2 linked regions of the Homo sapiens genome follow. The protein of the gene in region 2 interacts with the protein of the main gene of each other region in a pairwise test. Each region holds a gene or a part of one and is shown on either strand. Other genes may lie near its edges.

The links.
Region 1: the proteins of UBASH3A (region 2) and FGFR1OP2 interact in binary tests that used the Homo sapiens proteins (3 or more experiments, as listed by UniProt).

The regions. Positions count from the first base shown.
Region 1 is NC_000012.12:26,944,045-26,948,991, forward strand, and holds part of FGFR1OP2 (FGFR1 oncogene partner 2), read left to right. Parts: intron 1-4,947. UniProt on the Homo sapiens protein: May be involved in wound healing pathway.
Region 2 is NC_000021.9:42,444,101-42,448,689, reverse strand, and holds the end of UBASH3A (ubiquitin-associated and SH3 domain-containing protein A), read right to left. Parts: intron 4,157-4,589; coding exon 4,047-4,156; coding exon of another isoform or gene 3,857-4,046; intron 1,634-3,856; coding exon 1,496-1,633; 3' UTR 1,006-1,495; downstream 1-1,005. UniProt on the Homo sapiens protein: Interferes with CBL-mediated down-regulation and degradation of receptor-type tyrosine kinases. Promotes accumulation of activated target receptors, such as T-cell receptors, EGFR and PDGFRB, on the cell surface.

The sequences.
Region 1 (4,947 bases), on a different chromosome or scaffold from region 2:
GTAAATGTGTGTTTTAAAAAAAAAAGTTTTGGTTTCCATTTGTTTGTTGCCAGTATATAGAAAAACAGTTGATTCTTATGCTTGTATCCTGTGACATTGCTAAAATCATGTAGTAGTTTTAGGAGTTCTTTTTTGGATTCTTTGGGGTTTTCTACATAGACAACAATGTTGGTTGTGAAAAGGGGCCGTTTTATTTCTTCTTTTCCAGCCTGTATGGTTTTTCCCCCCTTCCTAGCCTTATTACACCAATGTATTGAACAGGACTGGTGACTGCAGACATCCTTCCCTTGTTCCTAATTTTATTGGGAAAGCAGTCAGTCATTCATTATGAAGTATGACGTTTGCTGTAAGTTTTCTGAAAATGCCCTTTCTCAGTTTAAAAAAATCCTCTTCTAGCTTGCAGAAAATTTTTATTATGAAAGTATGCGGAATTTTTTAATAATATGCCAGTTGGTATGCATAAGTGATTTTCTTCTTCAGTGGATTACATTGGAGACAGCCTTGAATCTGGGATAAACTCCCATTGGTCAGGGTATATTACTCTCATTATGAGTTGCTGAATTTGAGTTACTAATATTTCCTTAAGGATTTTTTATTTATGTTAATGAAGGATATTAGTCTGTGGTTTTCTTGTATTCTCTTTGGTTTTGGTATCAGTAATACTGACATCAGTTTATGAGATTAAAATTACAAGTATTTCCTTTTCTATTATTTTTTTAAGAGATTGTATAATAATTGGTGTTATTTCTTCTTTAAATGTGTGATAGAATTTGTCCTTGAAGCCATCCAGGTCTGGAGATTTTTTGCAGAAGATTTCTAATTACAAATTCAGTTTCTTAAAATAATTATAATAGGATTATTCATAGTTGTCTGTTTCATCTTGTGTGACTTTATGTAGTTTGTGTTTTTTGAGGAATTAGTCCATTTCATTTAAATTATCCAATTCATGTGTATGGAATTTATTATTGTGTTCACTTATCCTTTTAAGGAATTAGAGGTCTGTAGTGATGTCTCATCTTTCCTGATATCCCTTCTTTCCATTAGTAATTTATGTCTGCTGACTTTTTTTCTTGGTTAATTTTTCAGGAGGTTTTTCAATTTTTATTTTTTTCCAAGGACTGGCTTTTTATTTCATTAGGTTTTCTCTGTTGCTTTCTTGTTCTCAATTTCGTTGATTTCTACTCTTTATTATTTCTTTCTATTTACTTTAGGTTTATTTTGCTCTTCTTCTCCAGGTTCCTAAAGGTTGAGGCTTACATAATTGATTTGAGATCTTTCTAATTTTCTAATATAAACATTTAATGCTATAAATTTGCTTCAAAGTAGAGTTTTACATACATGCCAAAATTTTTGATATTTTGTATTTTCATGTTTATTTAGATCAAAGTATCTTCTAATTTCCAGAAACTTCCTTTTTGACTTATTATATAGAAGTACATTGTTTAACTTCCAGATGTTTGGAGATTTTTCTTGTTATCTCTTAATTACTTACTTTAGTTTAATTTCATTATAATCAGAGAGCATAATTTGTACTGGCTAGGCGTGGTGGCTCACGCCTGTAATACCAGCACTTTGGGAGGCCTAGGCGGGCAGATCACCTGAGGTCAGGCGTTCAGGACCAGCCTGGCCAACGTGGTGAAACCGCATCTCTACTAAAAATACAAAAATTAGCCGGACATGGTGGCATGAGCCTGTAATCCCAGCCACTCGGGAGGCTGAGGCAGGAGAACCGCTTGAACCCAGGAGGCAGAGGTTGCAGTGAGCCGAGAATGTGCCATCGCACTCCAGCCTGGGCAACAAGAGTGAAACTCCGTCTCAAAAAAAAAAAAAAAAAAGCATAATTTGTATGATTACAGTTCTCTTAAATTTGTTAAGGTTTGTTTTGTGATCCAGGATGTGATCTATCCTCATGAATATCTTGAGCACTTAAAAAGAATGTGTACTCTGCTGTTGTTGGTTGTAGCATTTCATAAATATCAATTCAAGCCAGTTAGTGGATGCTGTTCATTTTGCCTATATTGCTGATTTTTGTGTACAAAGTCTGCCAGTTACTGAGAAAGGAATGTTTAATTTTTCAGCAGTAAGGGTGGATATGCCTATATATCCCTTCAGTTGTTTGAGTTAGTGCATTTGTATTTTGAAGCTCTTTAATTATAGTTGTATATACATTTAGGATGCTTATGTCTTCTTGGTGATTGGGCATTTTATCATCATGTAATGTTCCTCTGTCCCTGGTAATTTTCTTTTCTCTGAAGTTTACTTTGTCTGATATTTATTTATTTTTTGAGGCAAGTCTCACTTTGTTGCCCAGGCTAAAGTTTAGTGGCGTGATTGTGGCTCACTGCAGCCTCAACCTCCTGGGCTTAGGTGATCCTCCTACCTCCACCTCCCAGCTAGCTGCGACTGCAGGTGTGTACCACCACGCCCGGTTAATTTTTTGTATTTTTAGTAGAGGTGGGGTTTGGCCATGTTTCCCAGGCTGTTCTGGAACCCCTGGCTTCATGATCTGCCAGCCTTGGCCTCCCAAAGTGCTGGGATTATATGGGCGTGGGCCACTGCGCCTGACCTTGTCTGATATTATATAGCCACTCTAGCTCTTTTCTTAAATATAACACCTTTATTGAGATATGTAATTCACATACCATACTATTCACCTATTTAAAGTGTACACTTTTAGGGTTTTCAGTATATTCAGAGTTGTGTAACCATCAACAAAATTGATTTTAGAACATTTTTCCCGCGCAAAAAGAAACCGTATGTTCATTAACAGTCACTTCCCATTCCTCCTTCCTTTTCCTAATCCCTCAGTCCTAGACATCCACTAATCTACTTTCAGCCTCTGTGGATTTGCCTCTTTTGGACACTATATAAATGGCGTGATACATTGTCTTTGTGACTGACTTCTTTCACTGAGCATAATTTTTTCAGTTTTCATCCATGTTGTAGCCTGTTTCAGGGCATCATTCCCCCCTACTTTTTTTTTTTTGCCAGATATTCCACTGTATGAACACATCATATTTACTCATTTATCAGTTGAATAATATTGCTGTGAACATTCATGTACAGTTTTTTGCATTGACATACTTTCATTTTCCTGGTATGTACCTAGGAGTGGAATTGTTGGATCACATGTTTAACCTTTTGAAGAACTGTCAGACTTTTCCAAAGTGGCTATACCATTTCACATTCTTTATATCCTAGCCAACACTTACTATCTTTTCTATTATAGCCATCCTAGTAGGTATATCTCATTGTGGTTTTGAATTGCATTTCAGTGATGGCTAGTTATGTTGAGCATGTTTTCATGTTCTTATTAGCCCTCTGGTTTTCTTTTGACTAATATTTGTACAGTATATCCTCTTTTCCATCCTTTTAACTTTTTTTTTGGAGGCAGGGTCACACTTTGTCACCCAGGCAGGAGTGCAGTGGCACAGCCAGGGTTGACTGCGCCCTCACCGTTCCGAGTAGCTGGGACTACAGGCATGTGCCACCACACCCAGCTAATTTTTAAATTTTTTGTAGAGACAGGGTTTTGCCATGTTGCCCAGGCTGGTCTTGAATTCCTGGGCTCAAGCAATCCTCCGATTTTGGCCTCTTAAGGTGCTGGGATTACAGGTGTGAGCCACTATGCCCGGCCTGTCCTTTTACTTTTAACCTACCCATATCATATTTAAAGTGAATTTTATATAAACAATGCATAGTTGGGTCCTCTTTTAAAATTCTGATCATCTGTCTTAATCTTATCTAAATATAAATGTCGAGGACATTTATATTTAGTGAAATTATTAACATGTTTGGATTTAGTTCTGCCATCTTATCATTTGTTTTCTTTTTGTTCCTTTGATATTCCTTTGTTTTGCCTTTTCTCTGTCTTTTGGGTTATTGAACACTTTTTAATTCATTTCAATTAATCTATTGTAGTTTTGACTATTATCTCTGTGCAGTTATTTTAGGGATTTATTAGGAATTACAATATATGTAAATTTTTAAGTCTACTTAAAATTGATATTTTTACAACTTCAAGTGAAATGTAGAAATCTGATCAATGTATAGGCCTTTTTAGCCTCCTCCCTTTTTCTTGTAGTTATATATTTGCCTGCATAAATTAAAAATCTCATTAGATAAATGTTATAATTCTTGTTTTTAAACATTAGACATTTAAAAGAACTAAGAGGAAAATAATTACCCAGATATTTACAATTTCAGTTGGTCTTCCTTTGTTCCTGATGTTCTAAGTTTCCTTCTGATAACACTTTGCTTCTAACTGAAGAGTATTCTTTATAATAAGTCTACTGGAAATAAGTTCTTCTTTCTCTTCAGCTGAGAATGACTTTTATTTCACCTTCATATATGAAACATATTTTTGCTGGATATAGAATTTTGGGTTGATAGGTCTGTTCTTTCAGCATTTTGAAAGTGTTGTTCTACTTTTTACTGGCCTTCATTTCTGTTGGGAAGCCTACAGTCATTCAAATTGTTCTCTATGAGTAATATGTCATTTTTCTCTGGCTGCTTTCAAGATTTTCTCTTTGTCTTTAGTTTTTGGAAATGTGACTACAACGTGTCTGGAGTTAGATCTTGTTGGAAACTCCTGCCTGGGGTTTCCTGAGGACTGGGAATGATGAAGACAAGGTTTCTTAGAAGGAAGCAAAGTGTTACATCATCGAAATGTATAAGTTTCAACTATTGAAGTTAAATATGTTTTTATATTATTGGATGACAAGTTAGAATGCGCTTGGGAGAATACACAAAATACAGTATTTTAGTCATTGTGAATATTGTGTCTTTTCGGTAGGGGACTCTTCTAAGGTATTCATAACGTAAACATACTAGAATATTTAAGAATATTGCCTGGCATGGTGGCATGCACCTATATAGTCTCAGCTACTCAGGAGACTGAAGTGGAGGGTCTTTGGAGTCCAGGAGTTCCAGCCTGGGTGATGGCAA
Region 2 (4,589 bases):
CTTCTTTTGGGGCCCCATTAAATCGGGGGAGCCTACTTCTCCCACTGGCAAAGTCCTCTTCTCTCCTCTACGTGATCAGAAACAAGAATAGGAGAAGCCAAAAAAGGCCTGCAAGGGGAGTGTCTCAAATCCCTATGTCCGAGGCCCTGTACGGGCAGCTCCGCTGTGCTTGGAAGGATTGGGGTATGTTATGGCAGGCTACAGGATAACCCCCAAAGATGTTCATGTCCTAATCCCCGGGACCTGGGAATATGCAACTTTATGTGGCAAAAGGGACTTTGCATGTGTGGTTAAGGCTCTTGAGATGAGAATTGATCCTGGGTTATTGGGTGGGCCCAGTGTCAACACAAGGGCCCTTGTAGGAGGGAGGCAGGAGAGTCAGAAGCAGAAGGCGATGTGGCTGTGAAGGCAGAGACTGAGAGAGCTTGGAGGCTGCTACGCCGCTGTACTTGAGGAGGGAGGATGCAGGTGGCCTCTAAAAGTGAGAAAAGGCAAGGATCCTCCCCTGGAGGCTCCAGAAGAAACATAGCCTGCTGAGAAAATGCCAACCTCCAGAACCGTAGGAGAGTCAGCGTGTGTGTGTGTGCATGTGAGCGTGTGTGTGCCTGTGTGTGCATGTGTGTTTGTGTGTGTGCATTGCATGTGTATGCCTTTGTGTGCATGTGTGCAAGTGTGTGCATGTGTTTGTGTGCTCATGTGTGCATGTATGCATGCACGCGTTTGTATGTGTATGTGTGTTTGCATGCTTGTGTACCTGCGTGTGTGTGCATGTGCGTGTGCATGTGTGTGCGCATGTGTATGTGCACGTGTTTGTGTGTGTGCATGCTCGTGTGTGCCTGTCTTTGTATGCATATGTGCATGTGTGTATGTGCCTGTGTGTGTGTGTGTGTGTGTGTGTGTGTAAAGTTTGTGTTCTTTCCATGACCCCCAGGTTTGTGGTCATTGGTTACAGCAACCACAGAGACATAGTAACATGAATGTTGACAGCACGGAGCAGCAACCCAGTTTTGACCTGGTCGATGGTTTTCTGGGACCATTTTATTGACTATTACACCTGTTTTAGCCCATGTGGATATGGCTAAAGAGTGATGGACCCAGAAAAAGAAAAAACGATTGGGAATTTAATGATTAGACCATGGAAAATGAAGTGGTTAGATCCTTCGTGTGTGGTGAGTCTTTAATTCCTGGAAGTTAGAGTCCCGGGCAGTTGTGTCCCCAGCTGCAGACACTCGGTGTACATGCTGCAGGGCGGCATCCTCACCCAGCCACCTGCCCTGTGCTCCCCGCAGCTGGGCTGGTGGACGATGGGTCCACAGATGGGAGTTACAAAGGCGAAAGCCGGAGGGAAATATTCCGGGATATAAAAGTGCGTCTCGTGCTTCTACAAATCACATTGGGTGAGACTAAGACGCCTCTGGAAACAGCAGCATCTCCCAGCCTCTGCACATGGTTTCTGCCTCTCCACTCTGAGGTTATGACAACATCACCGTGGCTCTCAGTTGCCTGAGATCCAGTTCCTCCAGTTAAATGCTGCGTTCGCCCCGTGGGTCAGGGTCTTCACCGGTGGGTTCACCAACTCCCATTTTCCTTCCTCTTTATTTTCTTCACAGAAGCACATGCCCAGGGAAGGGATCTGGAACAGAGTTTTAAATCACTTGTTAATATCTTATAGCAAGTCCATCAATTTCAGACTAGCTCCAAAGCCAACTGTCAGGCACACCTCTACTTTGGAGGGTCTGCGACTGCCCAGGCTGGCACTGCCACCATTGAATGGCACCAACATCTGCCCTGGCGGTGCCCCGTGGGGGATGTCCCCTAGCCAGGGGACACTGGGTAATTCCGGAGACATTTCTGATTGTCACAACTGAGGATGGAGGTGCTGCCGACACCTAGCAGGTAGAGGTCCTACAAGGTGGTACATCCTACAATGAGTAGAACAGCCCCCACCACAAAGGTCTGCAGGCTGAGGTGGAGATTGCCATCCACCACTTAAGGAGTGACTCATATTCTCATATTCAGCATCACAAAAAGACACAGACATTGAGTTTTCAGACCCAAAAGAAAAGCACAAAGTGAACCTTTAGACCTCCATCCCTTCATCTGTGAAATGGATGTGTGAGAACAGAGCTTTGTGGTGAAGCCTTTTTTGTTTTTGTCTTTTCTTTTCTTTCTTTCCTTCCTCTTTCTAATGTCTAGAAATTCCTCAGGCAGATGAAATTTACAAAAATGCCAACTGGCAGGGGGGTCTGAGTGAGGCTGGTGTTGACCCTAGGGTGATTCTTTCCTCACGCTTGCAGAGGCTGTGGGCGAGGGGCGGTGATGGGCTGGTCGGGGAGGGTCCTGAGTGCTCCCTTTCCAGCTGCCCTGATTTGGGGGCCCATCATTTGGTAGAGCCCCCCCTTTGTATTTTCTGATATGCATGAGCAAGTCCAGCTTATTTTGGGGTAGGGGCAGGGTGAACGCCACGTGACCAGCATAAGAAAGTCCAGGAGTTTGGAAGTTCAAGATTGGCATCTATGGAAGGGGGTGAAGGGTCCAAGGAGTGGGTGGAGCTTTGGCCACAAAGGCTCATGGGTTTGAGGAACTGTCAGCAGCTGGTGTGTGCAGTGCTGCCACCCTTGGTTACGTGGGCCCCCAGGAGCGCCTGGGGCTGGAGGCTTGGTATGTGTATATGGGACTGTGGGAAGCGGGGCAGGGACAGGAGGAATGCATCAGAGCGCATGTGTGGGAGACCCATTTGCAGAAGCAAGAGCAACATTTTGGGAGCAGGTGGTGCCGGGGCTGCCCCGGACAGTCCCCAGGAAAATCCATGCAGACCTCTACCAGTGTGGCCCAGGGGGGTTGAGCTGCCCTATTTGGACAATGCTCACCTGGTGGCTCAAGAATCCAGGGCGCTCGGAAATGTCTGGATCATAATTGGGACACACCACCCTGGAGACATTTTGCAGGGGAAGCATGTTTCTACTCAGGTGCAGAGGAAAATGGAGCAAGAAAGGGAGATTCGGGTGTCTGATGCCTAATTGCTGAGTGACAATGACCCACGGCAGGCATGCTCTTCATGTGCGTAACCTCTCATCTGGCTGCTGAGGCAGGCGTAGCTAGAGAGCTAAGCCCTCCTGCAGGCACCTGGCTGGTGTCACTGGGCTGGGCCCGGGAGTTGGGCTCCTCTGAAGCCCCTGACCTCTTGGGGGGACTCAGCAACCCCCACTGCTGCCCACAACTTATGGCAAACAAGCTGTGGCCAGTGTGGTCCTGTGGCAGTGCTATGTGAAGAAACCAGGTCAGGGCCTCAAGCACCTCCGATGACAGGCATTGTCTATGCTGCACGTGCTGCCTGGGCACTGACCAGTGGACTGATGAATTTCATAAAAAGGTCAGGACTGTGGTGAGTCCAGCCTTGAGTAGATCTGCAGGGAAGGGCTGGGACTGGGGTGGGATCTGCACTCCTGAGTTTGCCTGCCTCAATTCACCCATGGACTGGACATCACCCTCTGGCTTTGCTGAGTGATAATCAAGGTTGTCCAAGATGTCACGTGTGCGTTATCCTCTGTTTGTCATTCACAAGGCCCTTGCCAGAGCCTGAGCACTCTGGCAGCTACAACCAGCTCAAGCTTCTTCCATGCTGGGTGACTCCAAGGGCAAGAGGATCAAGGGGCTCCTTTTCATCCATCAGCCGCCCTGCCCCAGGTCCCCAGAAGAGGCCAGAATCGAGTCCCACAGTCGTTTCTTCCCTCCTCATCTAAACTGCTTACTCCTTCCTGGACCGTCTGTTTTTCTACGAGAGCTGCAAGGGGTCATGGCATGAGCTGACTGGTAAAAAGTTGGCAAGTGGCCAATGATGATGAGGTTGACTGACCTATCCACCAGCCCCAGCCCGAAGTCACCCTTCGCATAAGAGCCGGTGGGCACAGTCTCCGGGGGCACGTGGATCCTGGTGGCCCTGGGTCAGCCGGACACTTGTTTTCATTCCGAGAAGTGGATGAGATAAACCTGTGTCTTCGGGATGCTTGATTTTGTGGCCCAAAGAGCCAAGAGTGGGCGCGTACCTTTCTCACGAGTTGGGCAAAATCCCCACATTCCCGGGGCGGCAGCCCGAGCAGTGGCCGCGTGCAGGAGTCCAGAGTGGAGCCGTGACTCACAATTAGGATGACACCCGCTGTGGAAAACAAGAACACCTCCAGGTCAAAGCAGCCCCAGAGAGCACCTTTTATTAGACTGGGGTCCCCAAAGTGGTGGGGGGCAGAGCTATCTCAGAGTGCCCCGAAGCCTGGCGAGACCCCCGGGCTAGAAGTAGTGTGGCTGGTAACCGCTCAGTGATGCCTGCGTCCCACCCTCGCTCATGGATTCCTCTGCACGCAGCAGCTGCCCACCAGCCTCAGGGAGGCCTAGGAAGTGAGCTGAGCCACCCCCTGTGGTCGCTGGCTGCCTGGGCCCCGTCAGCCACAGACTGGGATGTAGCGGTGGCTGACGCCCAAGCCAGACCTGATTCACTTTAGAAAGGTCAGCCGGTTATTTTGTCACACGAGCCTGCTACGACTCCTGCTTTAGATAAGAACACCTGGAGACCACAGGCCGAGTGGGTCTCCCTC